Regions from separate parts of the Homo sapiens genome. Here region 2 is linked to region 1. Evidence: fine-mapped expression QTL. A gene starts in region 1. The other region holds a variant in brackets. All regions are shown on one strand. Distances are between the middles of the regions.

Evidence for each region.
Region 2: its variant is fine-mapped to the expression of RNF20 in tibial nerve (GTEx, PIP 0.91).

The regions. Positions count from the first base shown.
Region 1 is chr9:101,526,821-101,538,822 of GRCh38, reverse strand. It overlaps RNF20 (ring finger protein 20), which reads right to left and starts at 4,970. Exons shown (of 20, transcript NM_019592.7): 1 at 4,909-4,970; 2 at 3,271-3,425. The coding sequence starts at 3,399. It also overlaps a transcript of PGAP4 not described here. RefSeq lists an enhancer at 5,099-5,228.
Region 2 is chr9:101,559,139-101,571,140 of GRCh38, reverse strand. It overlaps RNF20 (ring finger protein 20), which reads right to left. Exons shown (of 20, transcript NM_019592.7): 17 at 10,215-10,340; 18 at 9,911-10,051; 19 at 9,130-9,231; 20 at 7,797-8,895. The coding sequence ends at 8,719. It overlaps GRIN3A (glutamate ionotropic receptor NMDA type subunit 3A), which reads left to right. Exons shown (of 9, transcript NM_133445.3): 9 at 1-1,789. Among named protein-coding and RNA genes, the nearest start is that of PPP3R2, 30 kb to the left of the region's middle. The variant A/CACA (reference allele first, on the strand shown) is at 7,461.

The sequences.
Region 1 (12,002 bases):
AATTAATGAAATCATTATTTTAAAGTGACAATTGTTTATTACACCACCAATTTTTGTTTCATTTTTCTCTTTTCCACTTTAATTAAAACATTCCTAATATGCCAAAGTAGTCAACAGTTTTCCCACTGTACCAGTTTATTAACACTATTAATAAACTATATCCTCAAACTCTTCTCTGAACATTGCCTTTCCCTTCTTGCTCTAACTGAAACTTGGATGAGAAACTGTTTCCCTGCAGGCTTCTCTAGTGGTGGCTGTTTCTCTTCCACACCCCTTGAAGCCAGAGAGGGATGAATATCCTCCTTATTTTCCATTGCCACTTCCAGGCCATTACCCCACCTTCCTCCCTAAAACCTCCTACCTCTGCAGCTCATGCCATTAGCCTATACCACCTGCCGCCATGCTCTGTTGAATTCATCTGTAAATGCCCACGTCGTTTCCTCACATTTCACAAAGACTTAGCACCTACCTTATTATCACTCTCCAATACTTTTCCTGTCATCATTCTTAATGATTTCAATACCCATACAGATAACCTTTCCTATACTTGAATCATCAAGTCACTGACCTCCTCTTCACCAATGATCTTGTCTTCTACCTCCTTCAGCCACCAACTCCCACATTTAGTCTTACTTGTACCTACATGTCCTCTATAAGCTCAATTTCAAACACCTCATTCTTCACAACTACCACTATTTTTCCAGCTCACTCTCTCCAGTTTCCTTACTCCAAAAATTCTTTAACCTCTCCAGGATCTACAATCCATTGGTCCTATACCTTTCACTTCTCTCACCTCCTTCTTTACTGAACTTAAATTCCATGATCAGTCATTATATAGTCATCTACTTTACAGCGATACTCCTTTATAAAGCATTGTCTCTACTCTCTTTTTCCTAATTCCTCTCCCCTCATATTCTCTTAAGCTCACTGAAAACAGGGTGCCATCCCCACTATTTCACCAACAAAGGTGTTTTGGTATCTCCAGTGAACTATTATTAAATATAACACCTCAGTCCTCCCTTTATTCCCCTTGTTCCAACTGAAACCTGAATGAGAACACATCAGCAGCACCTAATCAGCTCCTTCTTGAAATACTTTCTTCATTGAGCTTCTGGGAACCCATTCTCTCTTCCTATCCTCTTACCTCATTGGTCCCTCTTTGTTTGTATCTTTGATTAGTCCTTTCTCATTCCTTGACATGAAAATATTGTAGTGCCCCAGCAGACCTCTTTATGCTTATTCATTAAAGGAGTCTGTAGTCTCATAGATGTAAACACAACTTACAAAATGACGATTCCCAAATATACAGCTTTAGCCCAGACCTCTCTCTAGTATCCAGCTTATTAACTACCTATCCATTCAGAGGTCAAATAAGTATCTCAAACTTATATGTCCCAAACCAAACCAAACTCAATTCATCCTCCATGACTCCCAAAAATCTGCTCCTCTCATACACTTCTCTAGCTCAGTAAGTAAAAATTCCATTACTTTCAAAATCCTGGGATGATCCTCCCTCCTATCTTTCATGTGAGTTATCCAATCCATCAGCAGATCTTATCAATGCTACCTCCACAGTGGTCCAAGCCACCATGATTTCTCATTAAGATTACTGCAAAGGCCTCCTATAGCAAAAACTCTGTGCTAAGTCCTGTCAGCCTGCCAGATTTCAGCACAGCTGTGGTGGACAGCTCCATTTACACTGCCATTGTTCCCACTTCAAGCACACTTTGGAGACTCAGTTTTTCTGTCCCGCAATCACAGCTGGCTCCTAACAGCAATCTCAAAATGCACAGGAGGGACTGCTTTCAATGGCAACCTTCAACCAATTGGAGCGGGGATCAGTGGATACATGCCTCAGATCCCCACCTTTGGAGAGATGCAGTTATAGCGAAAGAGAGTAAGAAGAAGAAAAGAAAAAAGTCTGCTAGCTGGACTCTTGTTTATAATCCTTGCTTTTCTATAGTCTCCAAACACAAGTCAGAGCATGTTAGTCTCCTACTTAAGACTATCCACTAACTCCTCATTGCCTCTGGATAAAGTCCACACTGGGGTGTGTGCTATGTGCTTCCCATAAGTATGTGCTTATCCCTGTCAACAGCACATACCCCACTCTAAACAGTCTATTCCCTTGTCAGTGCTACCCTACAAACTAAAGTCTAGGGGCTGTCTTCAGTGTAAAGGATAGTGTCTGGCAAATAACAAATACTCAACAAATATTTATATATTGAGTGAATAAATGCCTTTGGAATGCATGATGCAAGGCAGTGCTAAAACAAAAATCACTTCCTGCCAGCAATATTAAGTACCAGAACCTCAGGCAGCCTCAGAAATGACACTTCATCAACAACTCACTATGAATGTTCCTATTATTCTGACTCAAAAAAAAAAATCAGCCTCTCTAAAATAAACCTCAGCCTCAAAATCAAATAAGCAATAGATGTGGTTTTGCAAGCCATACAAATGTAAAGCATTTTACAAAATGTAAAACATTTTAATATCACATCCCCATGTCTGATTTTCAAAAAAGCAAAATCTTGACGTAGATCAAAACCTGTAAACTTCTGATGTCTAACAGATATATAACATTACTATGAGATTTTGGTATATAATACTCATTTTGTCAGCTCCATAAGAGCAAGGATAATATCTATGTTATGCACCATTATATTATCTAGCCCAATATTAGCTATGAATGCCTCCCATTTATTGACTATTTACTATATTAAATGCAAAGTGTTAGCCCTTAACAGGGACTCTTATTTTATATGCATAAAAATCTAATGTAGCAGGTACTCTAATTACATTTTACAGACAAGAAAACAGGCAAAGGAAGGATAACACAAGGTCAGCCAGCTAGGAAGTGGTACAGCTCAGAGTCAACTCCAGGCAATCTGGTCTCAGACTCTCACTCTTCACCATACTCTCAATGATTGCTAAACTGTCTCTTAGAATCTGGTACTGACTTTTTCAGTGAATGAAAAATAAATGTGTATCTTCCCACTGCTAAATACCTATAGTTAATGTTGTATCAGGCACCACCTTCCCAGATTCTCGAAAGAATATAAGTACACCTTGAAAACAAAGAACAACTATCAATCTACCTCTCCTCTAGAACTGACTACCACATCATTTTACCTACTTTCAGCCTGTTTTATTTCCCTCTTCTTTTCAAATAGCTTCCCCATACTCCAGAAAGCTTCCATGAATTTTTAGTTTCAAGTTGCAACTGACAGAAGACAAGCACACTTTCATGGCACTGTTTCCTCATACCGTTGAAGAGACACCTCCTAGCTTAATTGTTTCCACTGTGGTCCCTGAATCTTCAACAGCTGCCTTCTTCTCAGGAGGCATGGAGGTGCCAGGTTCTCCAGCTGCTCTTTTATTTCCAATTCCTGACATTTTGGCAGAAGAAGACAGTCGTTTTCCTGATAGAAAAAAAGGCAGAAACTGACATAATATATGTAAGCAAAGCAACAATAGAGTAAAACAATAGAGTAAAAACTAGCAACTTTTCTGGCCAACCCTTTAACCTGGATCCATTAATTCCACAACCATCTCCATATTTCTCTTTGAGGAAAAAAAAAAAAAATTAAATTGTAGAGTAAAAGTCAAGGCGGGCCGGGCGCGGTGGCTCATGTCTGTAATCCCAGCACTTTGGGAGGCCGAGGCGGGCGGATCAAGAGGTCAGAAGATCGAGACCATCCTGCCTAACACGGTGAAACCCCGTCTCTACTAAAAATACAAAAAATTAGCCAGGCGTGGTGGCGGGCGCCGGTAGTCCCAGCTACTCGGGAGGCTAAGGCAGGAGAATCACTTGAACCCGGGAGGCGGAGCTTGCAGTGAGCCGAGATCGCACCACAGCACTCCAGCCTGGGCAACAGAGCGGGACTCCGTCTCAAAAAAAAAAAAAAAAGAAAGTCAAGGCTAAATTTACATGACTATAAATTTCTAAATAGGATGGTGATAAGAATGGTGATAAGAAATGAGACAATGGGCAAAGGGTGAAGAGACCAAAAATAAAGTTCTGGAATCTCTCTTCCTGTAATGCCAAAATCAGAAAAGGGCAGTTTGATTATGCCAGAAGTTAATACTACAGTGTTGAAAGAATCACAGAGCTGAAAGAGATCTGTGAAATGCCTACTAAAGTCATTAGTACTAGACAAGTCAGTTATCATCTCTAAGCCTCAGTTTCCTAACCCAGGAATAAATAACCACAGTATATACTTCCTATGCTTATTATAAAATAAAATGGATGATATAATTATAGAAAGAATTTGGCACAAAGCCGAACACAAAGTAAGCACTCAGAAACCCCAGCTCTTCTTTAACGTTTGCAGTGTTTTCCCTATTTCCAAACGCTCTCTCCACTGTTTTATGCAACCCTACGTTAGTTAGACCTGGGTGCGAATTTCAGTTCTGCCTGTTAGAGGCCGTGTTGCTTTGAAACAGTGAATTCGCCAAGAGCTTCAGTTTCCTCAACTGCACAATATTAACGAATATATTTTTCGTCTGCCCTGCCTACCTCCCAGGGTGCTCAAAGGAGGCGGAATGGATGCTAAAGCACTTTGGCTACTTCAGGAAACAACGCAGCCATCACCGAGACTAACAAGACTACTCTGCTTCCAATTCAAGCTCCAGGAGAGGACTATCGCTGGCAACAACCTCAGTAGGACCTCGCCTGGAGAGAGAAGACACAGAAGCAGAACAAGGCTGCAATCCAACTCGCTAAAAGCCAAAGACCTCAGCCTCAGCGTGGATAATTGCAGGCCCAGGAGACTGACGGCCCCAAAACTGGAGAGGGTGGAGACTCCTGAGGCCTGGCACAGTCCTGTTGGGCCCTAAGCGTGATCTAACCTAAGTTCTTTGAACTGGCGCCGCGCGGGAACAGAACTCGCAGCAGTTACTCACCAAGGCCCGTGCAGAGATTCCAGCTCTCACCCCTGACCCGCGGCGGAGACAAGGCAGAACTTCCGGGAGGCGGGGCCACGGAGAGGAAAAAGGGAAAGAAAAAAGGAAGTGGCTTCAACCCAGCCCATAGGACTATGAGACCCCGCCGGGCGGAAGTGACGTACGGAGAGGGCACGAGAAGCTTGAGCAAGCGCCGCCTCCCTAGCAACGCTGGGCAAGCGCGGGACCCTCTCCTGGCTACGACCTCTAAGAGTACTCGGGCCTCGCTGATGCCTGACGGAGAGCCCTTGGCTTTTGTTGACTTGTTGACCTTTGCTACTGCGATCTGGTCTTTCTGCGGGGATAAAGTTCCTCATTCTGTTGCTTGTCATTGGGGTTGCCATCACTCGTTCAGACGGCCGATTGGCTGACGGTCCCGTCAATCTCCGGGGACATGACTAGCCTCAGACACCTCAGAAAATTGTTCGTTGGTACCCCTACGTGCTGAAATGAAGAGTTCTGGAGAGAATCTGAGGGATTTGAGGAATTTCAGATGTTGGGGATTTTTTCCCCCGCACAGGGAGCGGTATTCTGCCCTGTCTACACATTAGAATCACTTGGCCTGGACAAAAGCTTTTTTAAAAAAGCGTTCCCCTCATCTCCTCCCCCCAAACCCCGCATTTCCATCCACTAGATTCTAATGCGTAAGCAGGAGTGACAACTACTGCCCTTGTGCTTTTTTGGGAACAAGAAATTGTCCAGGGAAAAGATAAACGCCAATCAGTCTCTGATCTCAGTACTAGTCTATTTTAAGCTAATTAAGCATTGATTTTTTTTTTTAAGTTTATGACAAACTGCTATTTTCCATTCAGTTAAACTAAATGCGTTTTAATGATAGGACGGTAATTAATCTAACCTATTAATGAAAAGCTGTATGTCTCGCAGAACTATGATAAACTACCTAATGACGTCAGCTAAGGGTCTAGAAATGGAAGAATGATCGCTATATCTTTTTTAAAAAATAGAATTTAGGCATCTTGGGAAAAAAAGAAGCTAATCTACACTGGATTTCTGTTAGTGTGAAGACTTTTGTCCCTGTACCTGCTAGGGCTTACCTGTAAATGAAGTAAGATGGTCAACACCAGGGAAACAAGTGTTCCTGGTGCCTGGCAGTGGAACACCTTGACTATCTTGGAAAGAATTAACTGGCCCCAAGTGGACTTCACATTTCATTCCGTGAAGTGGGAGCCTGAGAACATGTGAGTGGGGACACACCTGCCGAAAAGCATTGTATGAGACAATGACACTCATTCTCTCATCTTCTTTGGTTCCTCTACTCTTAGCAAGCCTTTCATTCATAGAACTACTGAATGGCAAGTAATGGTTTTTCTAGCCCAGAAAACTAGAGGTTCACAGACTGCATTTAGCCAACAGTTATGCTTTGTTTATTTTAGACAGTATTGGCTGTCCTGCGTGGTTAAAAACAAGAACAAAAATGAACTTAGTTGCCAACATTTAAAATATGGCTATTTTACATAAAAATCCAAATTATCAGTTTCTCTAAAAAATGTTGATGATCTTGCAACAGAAGGGTTATATTTTTGCATGGTCACATTGCTTAGAGCAAAGTAGTGGCTTCTTCTTTTTTTTTTTTTTTCTTTTTTTCGAGACAGAGTCTTACTCTGTCACCCAGGCTGGAGTGCAGTGGCACAATCTCGGCTCACTGCAAACTCCACCTCACAGGTTCAAGCAATTCCCATGCCTCAGCCTCCCAAGTGGGTGGGATCACAGGCACACGCCACCACACCTGGCTAATTTTTGTATTTTTAGTAGAGATGGGGTTTCGCCATGTTGGCTAGGCCGGTCTCAAACTCCTGACCTCGGACGATCCATCCACCTCAGCCTCCCAAAGTGCTGAGATTACAGGCCTGAGCCACAGCTACTGGCAATGAGCCACCACGCTTGGCGTGGCTCTCTTTTATTAATAGATCATGTTATTCTTGTTTACCATAATCCCCACTAATCTTTACTGGTTCCTTAGCACTAGTATAGTTTAATTTGAGTATCATCACTTGTGTGTTACATTGTGATAAATCAATTGCTGGTACTACGTAAGTGTCTGGTGGACATTATTGGTGATCTACCCAACAGCTATTCCCCTTCCCTCACCTTAGCAGAACCAGGATTTTTTTCATGTATCCATATAGCACTTTGATTCCATTAAGTCTTAGGGAAAACTGATTTCACCCCAATCTCCAAGGATTGTCTTAAATACTAAGTTCCATTTCCCAAGCCAAAGTCCTAGTCAGCAATTGACACTTTAATCAGGGTGAATTTCTTTGAATACTAGAATTGAAGCAGATTTTTATCTTCCAGATTTTCTGTGTGAGGCTGAAACTGTTGGAGGCTTCCTGAGATCATTCTTGAGAATGGAGCGACCACATAGGGGTGAGCAGAACCAAGAGAATCTCAGGGAAATGGAGCCAATCAACTGAGTTAGGTCACCCCTAACTTCAACCCACACTTGAGTGTTAGAGAAGATTCTACAAAGAGAGCAGACTTTTCTAGTACCTTTCAATTCTCACCATGTAGGTAACCATATTCTCTAGCAACTGGGATATATGTCTTTCTCAAAAGTTCCAGTTATCTAACACCTTCACAGGTGTCACAGCTCTCCAGAAAATAAAATCAACTCTGTGTGTGTGTGTGTGTGTGTGTGTGTGTGTGTGTGTGTGTGTGTAGAAAGAGATTTGAGAAAGAGAGAGAGGGACATTATAAGGAATTGGTTCACAGGATTGTGGTGGCTGGATAAACCAAAATCTACAAGGCAGGTTTGCAACCTGGAGCCCCAGGAAAGATTTGCAGTTTAAGTCTAAAGGCAGTCTGCTGGCAGAATTCATTCTTGCTCAGGGGAGGTTAGTCTTTGTTCTATTAAGGCTCTCAACTGATTGGATGAGGCCTACCTACATTTTGGAGGGTAATCTGCTTTAGTCTACCAATTTAAATATTAATCTCATCCAAAAAAACAAACAAACAAACAAACAAACAAAAACACCTTCACAGAATCATCCAGAATAATGTTTCACCAACTATTTGGGCACAGTGGCCCAGCGAAATTGACACATAAAATTAACCATCATAGTAGGTAACCATATTCTGCAGCTACTGGTGAGATCTGTCTTTTCTGAGCACCTCAGTCAGCCATCTGACATCTTCAAAGTAGCCTGTCTCACTCTAGCGAATTGGGAAAATAGAATAGATGAAGAGGAGGATGGCAGAGATCTCTCTCATTGAATGCATTCCCCATTCATTTCTGACCAGCCACCTTCTGTTCACCATCTTAATCAAGAGAAAAAGGAATATCCCTGGAAAAATAAGTTTTTCCCTCACTTATAAATGGGAAAACAGCATTAGCAATGATAAAAAGAATACTTAATATTTTATTTCACTTTTAAAGTCTCATTGCTTGTATCAAAAACATAATTTAAGCAAATAGTAATCTTTTTTAAAAGGAGAAAACAGACTCAGATTTTAAGTGATTTTTTTTTTCAAATGATGACTTAATGAGTATTTGTTGAAGGACCCAAGTCATTCGACCTCCAGCCGGTCTTCATTAACTACCCAATTCTGCCACAAGGTGGCATAAGGCGACACGCCTCTTTACCCAGTTCCCTTTCTAAAGCTTTGGTTGCACAGTACTGCGCATCAGTCATGTCCTGTCTTCACCCTAACTCTTAGAAACTTGGACAACTACTGAGGGTAGGCTTAATGCTCTCAAAATGGACAAAATTAAGATATTTTGGATTTTTGTTTATTGTTTTTTTCTACACTGCTTTACAAATGTTTTGTTCTAAGATTGTTATATCTCCAGGCATTCCAATATTCCATGAAATCTGGATTGGATTGTATGCCAGACATAATTCAGGAACTCCCTTATTTTAAACAAGTTGTATTTTACTTAGCATGGTATCACTCGTTAAACAGAAACATTTAGATACCATAGCCCTTGCTCTAGACTTGCTGAATCAGAATTTCCGGGGGAAAGCTCTCTGAAAATGCAAGTTCTTACTTTTGTAATTATGCTTCCTATCTGGGCACATTTAAGGAACACTGCTCTAGGTAATGATGTCCAGGTCCACCTGGGAGTGTCCTACAAAAACGAGCCCCCTCCTCTTGTCCTCACCTTTCCCTTCTCCTACCATTCACCCTCGCCACACCTTTCTCCTTCATTTCCATACCCCTGCCTCCTTCTCCCCAGATCACCTGGCCCACTATACTACATCATACTCAGCCCTCTTACTTTGTAATTTCTGGGGACCAGGGAGGTGGCTTACTCAGGGGAGCTAGAGCCAGGTCTGCCTTTTTTAAAGAGTGAGGACAAGGTGTCCTAACAGTCTATGGAAACGTGAGAGCTAATTGGTAGTCACAAATTGTCAGAGGAGCCCCATTTAGTTTAATGCTCTCTTAAAAAGCTGAGAGAAGGCCGGGCGCGGTGGCTTATGCCTGTAATCCCAGCACTTTGGGAGGCCAAGGCGGGCGGATCACCTGATGTCAGGAGTTCAAGACCAGCCTGGCCAACATGGTGAAACCCTGTCCCTACTAAAAATACAAAATTAGCTGGGCATGGTGGTGGTCGCCTGTAATTCCAGCTACTCGGGAGGCTGAGGCAGGAGAATCACTTGAACCCAGGAGGCAAAGGTTGCAGTGAGCCGAGATCACACCATTGCACTCCAGCCTGGGCAAAAAGAGTGAAACTCCATTTCAAGAAAAAAAAAAAAAAAAGCCGAGAGACACCATGCAGCTATAAAAAAAGAATGACATCATGTCATTTGCAGGGACATGGATGCAGCTGAAGGCCATTATCCTTAGCAAACTAACACAGGAACAGACAACCGCACGTACTCACTTATAAGTAGGAGCTAAGTGATGAGAACACATGGACACAGAGAGAGAGAGAGAGGAGCAACACAAACCAGGGCCTAGTGAAGGGTGGGAGGAGGGAGAGGATCAGGAAAAACAACTAACGAGAACTAGGCTTAATATCTGGATGATCAAATAATCTGTACAACAAACCCCCATGACAAAATTACCTATGTAACAAACTGCACATGTGCCTCTGAACTTAAAAAAAAAAAAAAAAACTAAGAAGTGTCTATGTTACAATCATACAATTGGTCTTTTATGTCCCTATGCCCAGCCATGTGACAGTCTATGTTTGGGTTTCTAACATTTTTATCATTTGTATTTCTATGATGCTTTTGTGTTTGGAAAGCAGAAGCCAGGTTGTCTTTGTGAATTTTCACTGGGTAGGTCTACTCTTCCATATTACTGTTACTGTGCAACTAGAAACCCACCTGGCCTTGGAGGAGAAAGAACAGCATCACTGAAATGCTTGCATCAGGCGTTGGGGATGGGGGTACAGCATGTAATTACAAAGGTAAGATTTGGAATTTCCATTTCCAGAAGCATGGCATGACCATCATTCAGAAAGCAAGCTGAGGACTAAAACTGGATTTCAGCTGAGGGCATTTGTCAAACTAGGTAAAGGAGAATTTAGGTTTTCATGGCCTTGGTAGGCAAGCAGAACAGGAGACAAAGCCCAGGGACTATTATGATTGGGTGCATATTAGAGACCCCTCCCCATACAAGCAAGGTGGAAACAACTACTTCCAACTGAAAGAAAATTGCCTGTCTCAAACTTTGGTATAAATATTTTTGCTGACTGGTACAGAATTCTAGAAGGCACTTAAAAAGAATTTCCAGAAATGTGGAAAAATAAAAGAAGGGCACAAAGAGGCCATGGGCAGTGCCTATGATCTCATTTTTACTTTTAAAACTTAAAAAATGCAATAAATCTTTTCCTGACCCTGGGTAATTGTGCTTATTTAGTACAAATCTGAGTACAGATTTTGGGGCAACAGTACCTAATTAGGCACACCCAGGCACACCCTAACTTACCCTTGGAGCTTACAGGAATTCCAAGAAAATCCACATGGGTAGAGATTGAGCGTCTTTCCCAATGGGCAGTCAAGATGATGAGATGGATCACTAAATTCTAAAGAATCCATGTCATGCTGTATACACACAGCAAGGAGGGCCTTAATATTAGCAAAACAACATCAAGTGTCTCACATTAAATAAATGTTGTTAACTTTAAGCTTATTTGGCTCTGTAGCCTTGTTTATATTTAATTTGTAAGTATATTTTTGTTTGTAAGCTGTATAAGCATAAGGCATGCATACCAAGTTTATATTTATACATTTTAACATTACAATTAAAATATTTTAAGTAAACATTAAGTGGCCCATGAGAAAATTGTTTTCCTTTGAAAGAGGGGTCCATATATTACTTAAGTTTGTAAAACATTTATTACTTAATTGTGTAGCTACTGTCTTGTGTGGCCATAATTATGTCTAGTCTTTTCATTTTCTTTTAAATTATTCTAGGATCAATAAGGGAGAATTGATATAAATATAACTGATATAGTATATCAGTTTAAACATGTATTGACTCCAACAACGACATGTATTAAGATATGAATTTCTGGTGCCCAAAGGCATATGGCCAAATTCAGTTAAAAGGAGGTCTTACAGCAGTAGTATACGGCCAGGAATCCACAAATGTTCGGAATCTTGCCTCATCAGCACCCCTTTCCTGACTCAGAAGAAAGAAAAAGGCTGATTACATTGATGACTAATGCAGTTACCTAGAGAGTTATGAATTCTCAAGAGACTGCCTCCAGAATCTCAGCGCTTATAAAGCCCTTCCAGGTGGGGCTGCCATCCTCGTCAACCCTGTGATACTTGTAGCACTCAGCCGACTCTCTCTTCTCACTGTCACAACTTCAGGAAACACTGATCTTAAATATGCACATGCTGATATATAGTGAATTCAAGCTTCATCTTTATTGCAGGATGATGGTAGTATCTCCTCCCAAAGGCATTTATAAAACAGGAGACACATGAGTTAATTTGGAAGAGGTGGAAGGAAGTTCAGGATTTCCTGATATCCCTTCCCTGTTCTTCCTCCCAAGCATAGTTCTGGTTGGTACCATTTACTTTGGAAAAATGGAATAAGTCATTATGCTTCACTTATTGAACTAAACCTTGAAATTA
Region 2 (12,002 bases), 32 kb before region 1:
CACCCCATCCCCTCACGTTCTCACCCCAGGCCCAGAAGTAGGTTGCAACTGCCTTTGGAAGATTTTGCCCCTTAGCCATCCCCACCCACTTGTACCAGCTAAGAATGCTGGAGACTCTGCCACCATGCTCTGCGTGCCCCTGAACCTCTGTGCAGCCCGGAAGGCTGATGTACAGGTGTACCTCAATCCACATTACAGCCATGCTCCTAATGTACATGGACATTTTTGTAACTCAGCTCATATTCTGACTGTATTTGAGAAGCTGGCTGTTTAAGGGAACCCAGAAGTGAATTCTTTTGTAAAGTAAAGCACCCTTTTGTAATGCAATTAATTATCCCTTAATGTATCTGTTTTGTAAGTCTGCATTTTTGTATATCGGATTTACCTTAAGCTTCTCTAGTGAGGCATTCTGAGCAGTGGTGATCACATGCCAGATCGCCCTGCCTATCCACAAAGTAGATGACCAATGCACGCTCCTCAAACATCTTTGGAGGAACTACCTGGCCAAAACACTGGCCAGGATGCAGCAAGCAGCAGCAGGGGCTGACAGCAGGCTTACTGCCATCAACATTGCTTGAAATGCCTCTATGTTCTGAATAAAGAAAAACCATAATTGCTTGTGGTGAAACGAAGCAGTCTTCATGTTAAGTAGCAATGGTTATTTTTATTGGTAGTAACTGAACAGTGTTTTGCAATTTGTGAAACAGTGTATTGTGTTTTGTAAAATGATGTCATGAAATGGTGGGTCCTTGGAAACCTCCTTTCCGTTCAGCTCTGCCTCTGTTCTTTCAACTCCTTTGAGGCTCAAAAAAAACACAAAGATCAGAAGCCTTCAGATAGAGGGTGGTATTCTGGTAAAGAAGAAAGAGATAAGGGACGCTACCTTGCTTTTCTGGCACAGGAAGCACATGATAAAGCATGCTCAGATGAGCTGGAACAGATATAGCTACCTGGTTCGTGTAAATAAGAATAATCAAGGCCCCAGAGTGTGTATGCTTCCAGGTGGAGGAGAAAGGGGAATCTCCCAAAATTTAAAAACAAATTGGAAGAATAACCAGGACAGCCAAGTGAAGCAGCCACAGGGACCCAAGCAGTCGAGGTCTTTAATGTGCCTGGAGATGACTCTCTGCTATTCATGAATCTTGCTATTGCACAAACCCTATCAAGAGCTGCTGCTTCCCTTCCAGCCAGAAAAGTGGTAAGCGGAGCAAGTGCCAAGCAGAACAGACCTTATCATCTGGGTAACAGACTTCTCAGTGTTGGTGCTGTGTCTGTTAGAGCCTTAGAGCAAGTTAAGCACTTCCTTGGTGTGGGTAAAGAATAAAGGGGAAAGAAACTACTTTAGAGCCTCTTTTTCTCCCAACTCATATTTTTGATAGGAAAAACAGAAAACCCATCCAGTTCTTCAGAAATTGCTTTCTAGGCATTAATACTACTTTACTATCTATACTGTTTAGTTATTCCTTTCTTTACCCACCTAAACTATCCATCTAATCCAGGATTCCCTCACTCTTTTTTTTTAGTTACTAATCATTTTATGAAAATAATGTATTTATAAGTATTTTCTTAAGGTTTGTGAAGAGTATTTGCATTGTGTCTTCATTTTAATGTGTTTGCAATCGCTCCGCTCCAGGAAGAACGGAAATGCTGTCTTGTGAGCATGAAGTGAACGGGCTGTTTTGCTCCAGCCACTTTTCTTGTACAACCACATGGATGGATTAGATGTCCTCAGGTCTTTTCCATCTTCAGTTTCTATGACTGTGGAATAAATGTTCAGATAGAAACTTCACTTTTGGATGTACTGCTGGCTTTGTCTTTGGGGATTCAAATGTTGACATGATACCAGTTCCTTCTTAATAGGAGACCCATTAATGCTATGATTTATGCTTATTTCCTTGCTATAGTCCAAAGAAGAAACACAAGATATGCTGAGAAATCTCAGAGCTCAGGCATCATGAAGTAGAACTGAAATGGCTTCATCTGAGATAGACATTCCAGGAAAAAGCACAAGTTCAGAGGTCTCTAAAATCCTGTACTGATCACCCTCATCAGTAATTCGACAAACATTTGCTAAACAGCTTCCATGTACGTGCCAAGTGCTGGAGACACAATAGTGAAGAAGATAGGTATGGTCCCTAACTTATGACCTTTTTTCTTTTTTTTTTTTTTTTTTTGAGACGGAGTCTTGCTCTGTCACCAGGATGGAGTGCAGTGGCATGATCTCGGCTCACTGCAACCTCTGCCTCCCAGGTTCAAGTGATTCTCCTGCCTCAGCCTCCCGCCCGAGTAACTGGGACTACAGGCGCCTGCCACCATGTCTGGCTAATTTTTTGTATTTTAGTAGAGATGGAGTTTCAACATGTTGGCCAGGATGGTATCGATCTCCTTACCTCGTGATCCACCCACCTCGGCCTCCCAAAGTGTGGGGATTACAGGCATGAGCCACCACGCCCACCCTCAATCTGACCTTTTTACAACCTATAAACAGGTAATACTGTAACAACTAACATATATTGGGTACTTATTATAAACCATGATCTCATTTAATCTTAACAACCCCACAAGATAGGCACTATAGATGTAGTCTTAAGTAGGTAAATGAGACCTCCAGTTTACAGATAAAAAAACAAGAGTCAGAGAAACTATGTAACTTGCCCAAGGTTGCAGAACTAGTAATAGTAACAGAGATTTGTACAACCATACAGGATTCCGGTCACTGCCTCACAATTTTCTATTCTTCCTTGAATCCCCTTTTAGTCTTTCTGCCTTACTGCTTCTTTCCCATGCCTCGGCCTGGCCCCTAGCTCCACAGAACAGAGAGAGAAGCGGATATTGTAACTGCACCTTCATTGGTCCATTTAACTCAACACTGTAATACCTATGTCTCATAAAAATAGCATTTCAGCATCTTTTCTTTCTGCTTTCTAGCCCAACCAAGAACTGATGCAAACACAGTTACAAATCAGCAGCAGCCCTGCAGTCCCAGACATATGGGCAGTTTCTGATAACCCAAGCAGTTTTAGCTGCAGGCAAATTTGCCTTCATGAATCTGCTAGCCTGTTGCCTTCTTCACACACATTCTTTCCGAATAGAAACAATCAAATCTCATGAAAATGTAAATCCACTATAACTTAATTCAACTACCTACTTACCTAAGGGTGTTTTTGCATTACTCAATCATTCATATTTTGGATGCCTATTTGTACCCAGGCATTGGGGCTAGTTGCTGGAAATAGACAGATAAAAACAGCAGATTCTGATCCCATAGAGCTCAGTGTAATGAAAGGACACAAACTGACATTTTATGGTGTGTACTCTAATAAGGAAATGCACAACGGGTACTATTGGAGTGAAGAAAACACTGTGTGTATGTGTGCATGTGGGTGCAGGTGTGTGAGGTGAAGAGACTCAGTGGAGGGTAACAGGCAACTAAACTAAAAGAAAGCATGTACAAAATTCCAGATTAGGGAAACCATGGCAATCAAGAAACTGGGACCTTCAAATCATTTAATATAATAGAAACACACAGCTTAAGGTGGATGACAAACTATATGAACTGGAAAGAGAAAAGCAGAGGCAAGATCACTTGTGCTAAATTGGATTTGTGTCCTGAAGACTACAGGAACCACTAAAGGATTTTAAGCTGAAGAGACAACTAGTAAAAGAACAGGATCCTCACCACCAGGTGGAGCTGGATGTCACTCACATGCATTTTAGTTGTAGGACAGTGAGCAGATAAAGTTAACTTTTTGAAGTTTTGGAATGAGTTGGCCATGACATCATTTACCAGGACAGGCAGACTAGAGACAGACAGACATGGATAAACGTGTGTCTTAGATTTCAGGGAGGATGTCAGTGTTTTGTTTTGTTTTGTTTTTTTCCCTAGAAATAAGAAAATGTAGGTGGAAACGAAAGTTGATCTATCAATTTCTTTATTTGCTCAACAATTATAAAAGTTAGCATTTGCTGAGCATTTACTAGGTGCCAGGCGCTGTGCTGAATGTCTCCTGTATGATGATTCATTTCATCCTCCATATAACCCTATGATGTAGTTATTATTTTATAGATGAAGAAACTGAAGCATAGAGACATGAAGTAACTTGCTAATAAGTAGCAGCACCATACGCAGGCAAGTCGGACTTCATGAGAAATATATTTAACACAATGCCTGGAATCACAATAAGCACTCAGCAAATGCATATGATTGGGAGAGCAGGAAGAAATCTAAGATCCCTTGATTCAATTCTACTCTACAACAAGGTGCTAAAGGAACTCAGTGAATTCAGAAACAAAATGTAGTTCTAATCCAGGGCCTGGCAAAGAGTCTAGTTAGATTAGAATGATCAAGGATAAGTATAGTAGGTATATGTAAGTCTTTAGAAGACTTCAAAATGACTCAGAAAGTATTTTCACTTATTGTCTACCTGATGACATGTACTCTATTAGTACAGGTCTCCGATTGGGATAAAAGAACAATGGAGTTCTCATAGTAGCATTTCAATCCTGTGGCTAACCTGAGTGGCCCTGGAACCTATTTCCTCACTTCTAAAATAAGGACATGGTCTGAGTTCCCTTTCAGCTCTAATATCCTCAGAGCATATTATTATTATATTAATGTGAACATAGCTTCCCTCAAAAAAAAAAAAGGTTAACTTACAATAAATGAAGCTTTTATGCAGGTTTCCGTAGCGTAGTGGTTATCATGTGTGCCTTGCAGTAAGTGAAGTCTCAGCTACATGAGACTCAGCAGTCTCATGAGCTGCCACTACAGAAGTGTTAGTTTTAGAATTCATAATAATTCCTTTTATTGCCACAAAATAAATTAAAACTGTAGTCATATATTTTTGGATAATACAAATTTGAAGGGTTACTTCGATATATGGGGAAAGATTGTTTCTACTTAGGGGGTGAAAAAAAGAAAGAGTAATAAGGTTTGAATCACACATTGGCCCAGTAAAGCAGACTTCGGAAGATCTGGCAGCAGAACCATGAAGCAGAATTAATTTAATCATGAAAAACTTTACTGACTACTATGTGCCTCTGCTAGATATTAGGGATTAGACTGTTAAGACATTGTCCTTTTCATGTCCTTTAGTAATTGTGAAGTAGGCTATAAGTAAGACCTTAATAGCTAACATTTGGAACAGACCAAACATGGGCAGGAATCCCAGAAGGTAAAGCTCATTCTTTCTGATAGGACCACTTTTAAGTATTTCCAAACTTTAAGATCTAGAAAATTTGTAAGTATTTCTATGTCATGGGTTTCCTATTGTGCAAACCCAATCCAACCTACACATAATCCACCATTTTTCTACTAATCTCAGTGTATCTGTCTTAACATCAGAAAAGCAGACTTCTGCAATAATGACTAATCAAAACTTTTCTGCAGATCCACTGGGACATGGGTTTATCTGGCAGTCCTCAGATAAATCTTCAAAGAACAATATGTAACGGCATTCCACATCCTAGCAAATGACAATGGGAATAAAGATGAGAGTAGCATATGCTTCCGGCAAGTGTAAGCATCACCATCCTAGTAGGTTTAGAAGACTGATGATTATTTATTGTCTAGAATCTTCACAAAATCAAATCACAGTCATCACTCTAGTGGCATGTACATTAAACTATGTGCATCAAATTCCGGCCCTTGAAGAACAAGGAAGCCTACGGATCTGGACAGAGAAAAAGGAAAAGGAATTGCAATGGAAATTCATGTAAGAAAACAATTGCAGAAACAGCTCAATACCTTTGAAAAAGATCCCTATAGTAAGTAAGAAGGTAAGATCCAAGCCATGTAGTTATGCATGCCTCAGAGCACACCTGACTTTGGTCAAAGTCACTAAGAAATTTCCAAGGTAACAATGAAAGAAAGAAAAAAGAGAGAGAGAGACCATCCCTACAAAATCTGAAATGGTTGTTGTTTGTTTTTGAGACAGGGTCTCACTGTGTCACCCAGGCTGGAGTCCATGGCATAATCACAGCTCACAGCAGCCTTAACCTCCGGTGCTCAAGCTATCCTCCCGCTGCAGTCTCCCAAGTAGCTGGGACTACAGGTGTGCACCACCACAGCCAGCTAATTTTCGAAATTTTTTGTAGAGACGGGGTCTCCCTATGTTGCCTGGGCTGGTCTCAAACTCCTGGGCTCAAGCAATCCTCCTGTCTCAGCCTCCCAAACTGCTGGGATTATAGGCGTGAGCCACTGCACCCAGCCTGAAGTGTTTTTAAGAAATGAGAAGCCTCTAGGACTTCTATAATAATCTTTGAAATTGGCATTTATAAGCATTACCTTAAAGAAATTACCCTTTAAAGTTCATATGGATCAAGGGCTGTGATTGCTAACTAGGATCCAAAAAAGCTATGAATAATGTACATACAATACAAATAAAATTTGGTATGCAGTTTGGGAGTATTCCTAAAGCGCATTCATTGACCTCTTCTGTAGTGAGAGAAGCCAACTGCCAAAAAATCACCATCATTTTTGGTTGTTATCTGAAAATGACTGTGAGAGCTCAACTTGTGTTGCCAGGACCTCAAGCCAGTTGGGATCAGGGGCTCCCTGCTCATCTCAACTAGAGGAACTTCCTCTAAATCCAACTTCCCATGGGGCTAGTGGTTTCCTCCACAACATTCCACAGGCCCTATGGTCCCCTGGTGCTGGGCAGCTGGCTTTCTCAGCCAATTGTCACAAACAGCCAACAGCCAAGCCCAAACCACCTGTTGACCAAGCAGTATATCTGCACCCAACCAACAAAGTTATGCTCAAGCTTACCCTATAAGAAGAGCAAGAAGCAAGGGGAAAGTGTCCTATTACTAAATGAAAACTCACTGTGTCCAGAAGCAGGAGCTAATCCTGTCATGATGGTTCTGTGGGGGTGGGGGTGTTTGCTGAGCAGGGGGATCAAGGGACCCATGACCTCTCTTGATGACCTAGTAAGATTCTTCAATTAGACTCATTGCTTAATTCATACCACATGACTTTGTGGAATTCAGTGCAAATCCTGCTGATTATAGCTGGTGACCACAGAAAGACACAGAATTTGCTCTTACCTGTCTTCTAGGACAGGTGGTGATCAAGAAGGATCCATTTTACACAACCCCTTGCCAGAGATTTATGAAACCTCTGGTTTGCTGGTTATTATAAAACATAATGCAGCTGGGCATGGTGGCTCACACCTGTAATCAAAACACTTTGGGAGGCCAAGGAAGGTGGATCACCTGAAGTCAGGAGTTTGAGACCAGCCTGGCCAACATGGTAAAACCCCATCTCTGCTAAAAATACAAAAATTAGCTGGACATGGTGGTGAGCACCTGTAATCCCAGCTATTCGGGAGGCTGAGGCAGGAGAATTGCTTGGACCCAGGAGGCGGAGGTGGCAGTAAGCCAAGATTGTGCCACTGCACTCCAGCCTGGGCGACAAGAGCAAAACTCCATCTCAAAAAAAAAAAAAAAAAACCCACCAC[A/CACA]TAATGCAAGAACTCTCACCCTAAAGCTAGAGGCAGCAATATGCTCCCCCAAAAAACAAATTATAGTCTCTTACCCCACCTAATGAACTATGAAAGATAACTGAGTAGTCAAATAAATTAATCTTTTAGGTATAATTTCTCCATAGAATAGACTCAATAAAAGAATTGGGAGAAAAGTGCTTCAATTAAGCAAAGATCTAAATACTCTAAACAAGGCCAACCTCTTAACCTAAGCTGATTATTTCCATGCAAGAAAATTTAATTCTATAACAGCAGATATAAAATCAACTTGTAATAATAAAGACAAAAGTTTCAAAGAAAAACCATAAACACAAATGCAAACTGAATCCTGCTTTAATTCAAGCTTGTGGAGAACAAAGTCCTACAGAAACATTCCACAGAATTTTCTGGAAAAGAGGGATCACAACAACCCTGTAAAAAGGAGACTGAGAGTAATTCATAGCTCACCAAGTTCTCTCCGTATCAAATTTCCAGAATACCCACAAGATTTCTTCACCAGCTCAGTCCTGACTCAACCTCTTCAATCTTTATTTCATTAGAAGACAAAGGGTCATATTATTTAAAATTATTCTAGTCTCAAGAAATTTAAAGACTTGAAGTAGTAGAGCATTCAAAACTTAAATAACTTTAACAAGAAAGCCAGCTGATCTTAACAAGTTACTCTGCTAGTAAATGGGAAATAGACTGAATCATCCTAGACATAATTTCATTAGGGCTGCAAACCACCCAGGGGAGAGTAGCACAATTATACCATTTTGTAATCCACATTCACAAGAAGTTTGCTACACAAATGAAGAAAACTTTGTGCCCATAGACAACTTATTTTTTAAAATATCACTCCCCAAAAGTAGCCATGTTTCCACTTTTGTTCCCTTTTCCACATCAAAAATACCAACTTGATTTCTTCAGGAGGAATGGACAATCCAAGTTTATACAGTGGGCTGGAAAAAGAAAACACTGAAAAGTCTAAAAGCACAAAATAAACAAAGCTGGGAGGGAAGACAGTAAGAGTTATTTGTTTCTAATTCATTCTGAAACCCAAGGCTTGTATTTACCAGTCCTTTCTGCTAAAGTCATCCAGCTACTGAAGAGGAGAGCCTGGAAGTAAAGTCTGGAGGAAAGGTAGTTGACTGATAAACTGTCCTACAGGTGACAGTCAAGGAGAGAAGAGGTAGAGGTTTGGTGGTTAATGAATAAGTTCCTGACTAGCCAGCTCCTCTTCTTCTCTTGACTTAGATCAACCAATGTAGATGCGATGAAAATCATTGGCACCAAAAGCAGCATTACACTTGGGACATTTGCGCTGGCGGGTGTCATAGCGTGTCTTCACACACTCAAAGCAGAAGACATGAAAACACTTAGTAAGAACAGCATCCTTTTTACGCATGTTACAGCACGGACAGGTCAAGCGTGCCTAAAAAGAAAAGATGTCAGAGTTTGAACAACCATGAAAGTTTATGATCCAAATGGCTCTCATATACTACACAACCAAGAAGAAAACCCACAAGGCACTAAAAAAAGAGCATCATTTCCCCCCAACCTCCAAAATAAACCATTCTCTGGTTACTATCATGCAAATTATTCTCCCAGTCTATTAGGCCACTTAAAGCTTTGACAAAAAACTAATCACTAAGGCATTTTTTCTAACCTTGTAATCCTTAATCTCTTCCATCAGAATCTCATCACACTTGGGTACATTGTCTGGTTTCTTTGTGGTCTCCAGCTTCCTGCGAAGTCTAGAGATGTCCTCCTGTGGCAGGATAGCATACCCATTAGACACACTTACCCAAATCTATCATTTTTGAGAAAAATAATAGACTTGAGTTTTCTGTTGTGAAAAGAGGGGACTTTCTATCCTTTTATGGTCAATTATCTTGTAGAAATGTAGAGAACTGCAAATGGCAGGATATTTTCTTTTGTTTCAGAAGAGGCAACCATAATTATATCCCCAAATTAGAATTGCATCTATTACCAATTCAGTCCTGTGAAAACACATCTAAGAGTTTAGAGGACAGTCTATTTTGTTTTATAGTAATTAGTTTTAAGCTGAAGGTAGAACGGTTTAAAATAATTCAGAGACTTACGGATAAAGACAGAAAGACATCATGAGAAACAGCTAGCATGACAAAAATAGAGACATTATACAAGAACTTGAAAATCCTCTACTGCTGCTATGCTGTTACTTCTTTAACAATTTACTAATTCATTAATTTAACAAATATTTATTTTGTGCCTACTAGGTGCAAGGCACCATAAAAGAGTCTGAGGATATGGCAGTGAAGAAAACAGACTTACTCTCTTCCCTCAACAAACTTCCTCAAGTCTAGTAGGAAATGACATACATTGGACTAATGATTCTTTCATGATATGGGTCACTTCCGACCTCAGAAAACACCTAAAAGGTGACAAGAAAAGACAACTGCTTTTACCTGGGCTCGTTTGAAATTGAACATGTCCTTTTCTTTGGTAACACTGTTCTCCACGATCTCATCCTGAAAATCATGTAGCTTCTTCTGAGCCAACTCCAGTTGTGCTTTGAGGTCATCTGCAAGCTGGGCTGCCTCCATTGCCTATGTAGGATGTACAAATAAGTGACACCATTGTATCACCTATTATTGCCAGTGAGGCAAAATGTTAGCCCAAGTTGAAGGAATAAAGCGAACTTACAATCTCAACAGTGTTATACTTATTTGTTCCACTGAGACTAACCATCATTAGATTAATCAATCATACCTTGCGTTTATTCATCTCTAAGGCTTGGGTCCTAAGACCCAGCTCTTTCTCCCCTGTGCCAATGTTGCTCTGTAACAGATGCTCCTTCTCTTCCAGTTTCCTTACTACCTGTAGCTGGGCATCAACCTTTGAACAGAAAATCAGATTTTAACACAAATGAAAAGATTAAAAAAAGAAAAAAAACTATTCTGTTAATCTATAAGCCCACAAAATACAGTATGTTAGAAATCTCAAACTATTACTGATTTTGCCCATGAACCCTTCAAAATACATCAAGACTATGATAACTGAAAGCTTTACTTTTAATATAAAATATTGTGGAAGATTCAGTAAGAGTCTGAAAAATGACTGAAAAGATTCTTTTCCAAATTGCCAAAAATAGAGAATGCATGCTAATGCTTAAAACCTGGCAATTCATACTATAACATATAAATTAGAACTCAAACAAAAGTCCAAGAGTATTTCCTTCAGAATGGCTAGACATTCTAAAAGAGTCTTTTTTGAAATTAATGCACAAAGTAGAATCAAACAATATTAAAGTGTAAAAAGTAAAATCACAAACACCCACCTCCTAACCTCACCCACAACTCATCCCAATATGTAGAGGTAACCATTCTAACAGTTTCTCACACTGCCTTCAAAAAGCATATCAAAAAGATAGTCCACCATGATCAAGTGGGTCTCACACCAGGGATACAGGGATGGTTTGACATCCACAAGTCAATAAATCTGATACACCATATAAACAGAATTTTTAAAAAATCACATGATCATCTCAATAGATGCAGAAAAAGCATTTGACAAAATCCAGCATCCTTTTATGATTAAAACTCTAGCAAAATCAGCATAGAAGGGACATACCTTAAGGTAATAAAAGCCATCTATGACAATCCCACAGCCAACATTATACTGAACAAGGAAAAGTTGAAAGCATTCCCCCTGAGAACTGGAACAAGACACAGATGCCACTCTCACCACTTCCATTCAACATGGCACTGGAAGTCCTAGCCAGAGCAATCAGACAAGAGAAAGAAATAAAAGGCATCCAAATTGGTAATGAGGAAGTCAAACTGTCACTGTTTGCTGATTACATTATCATATACCTAGAAAACCCTAAAGACTCATCCAGAAAGGTGCTAGAACTGGTAAATGAATTCAGCAAAGCTTCACTATACAAAATTAATGTACACAAATCAGAGCTCTGCTATACACCAACAGCAACCAAACTGAGAATCATATCAAGAACTCAAACCCTTTGACAACAGCTGCAAAAAAAATAAAATAAAATACTTAGGAATATACTTAACCAAGAACGTGAAAGACCTCGACAAGAAAAATTACAAAACACTGCTGAAAGAAATCACAGATGACACAAACAAATGGAAACACATCCCATGCTCGTGGATGGGTAGAATCAATATTGTGAAAATGACCATACTGCCAAAAGCAATCTACAAATGAAATGCAATTCCCATCAAAATACCAACATCATTCTTCACGGAACTAGAACAAACAATCCTAAAACGCATATGGAACCAAAAAAGAGCATACATAGCCAAAGCAAGACTAAGCAAAATGAACAAATCTGGAGGCATCACATTACCTGACTTCAACCTATACTATAAAGCCATAGTCACAAAAACAGCATGGTACTGGTATAAAAATAGGCATGTAAACCAATGTAACAGAATAGAGAACCCAGAAATAAAGCCAAATACGTAGTCAACTGATCTTTGACAAACCAAACAAAAACATAAAGTGGGAAGGGACACCCTATTCAACAAATGG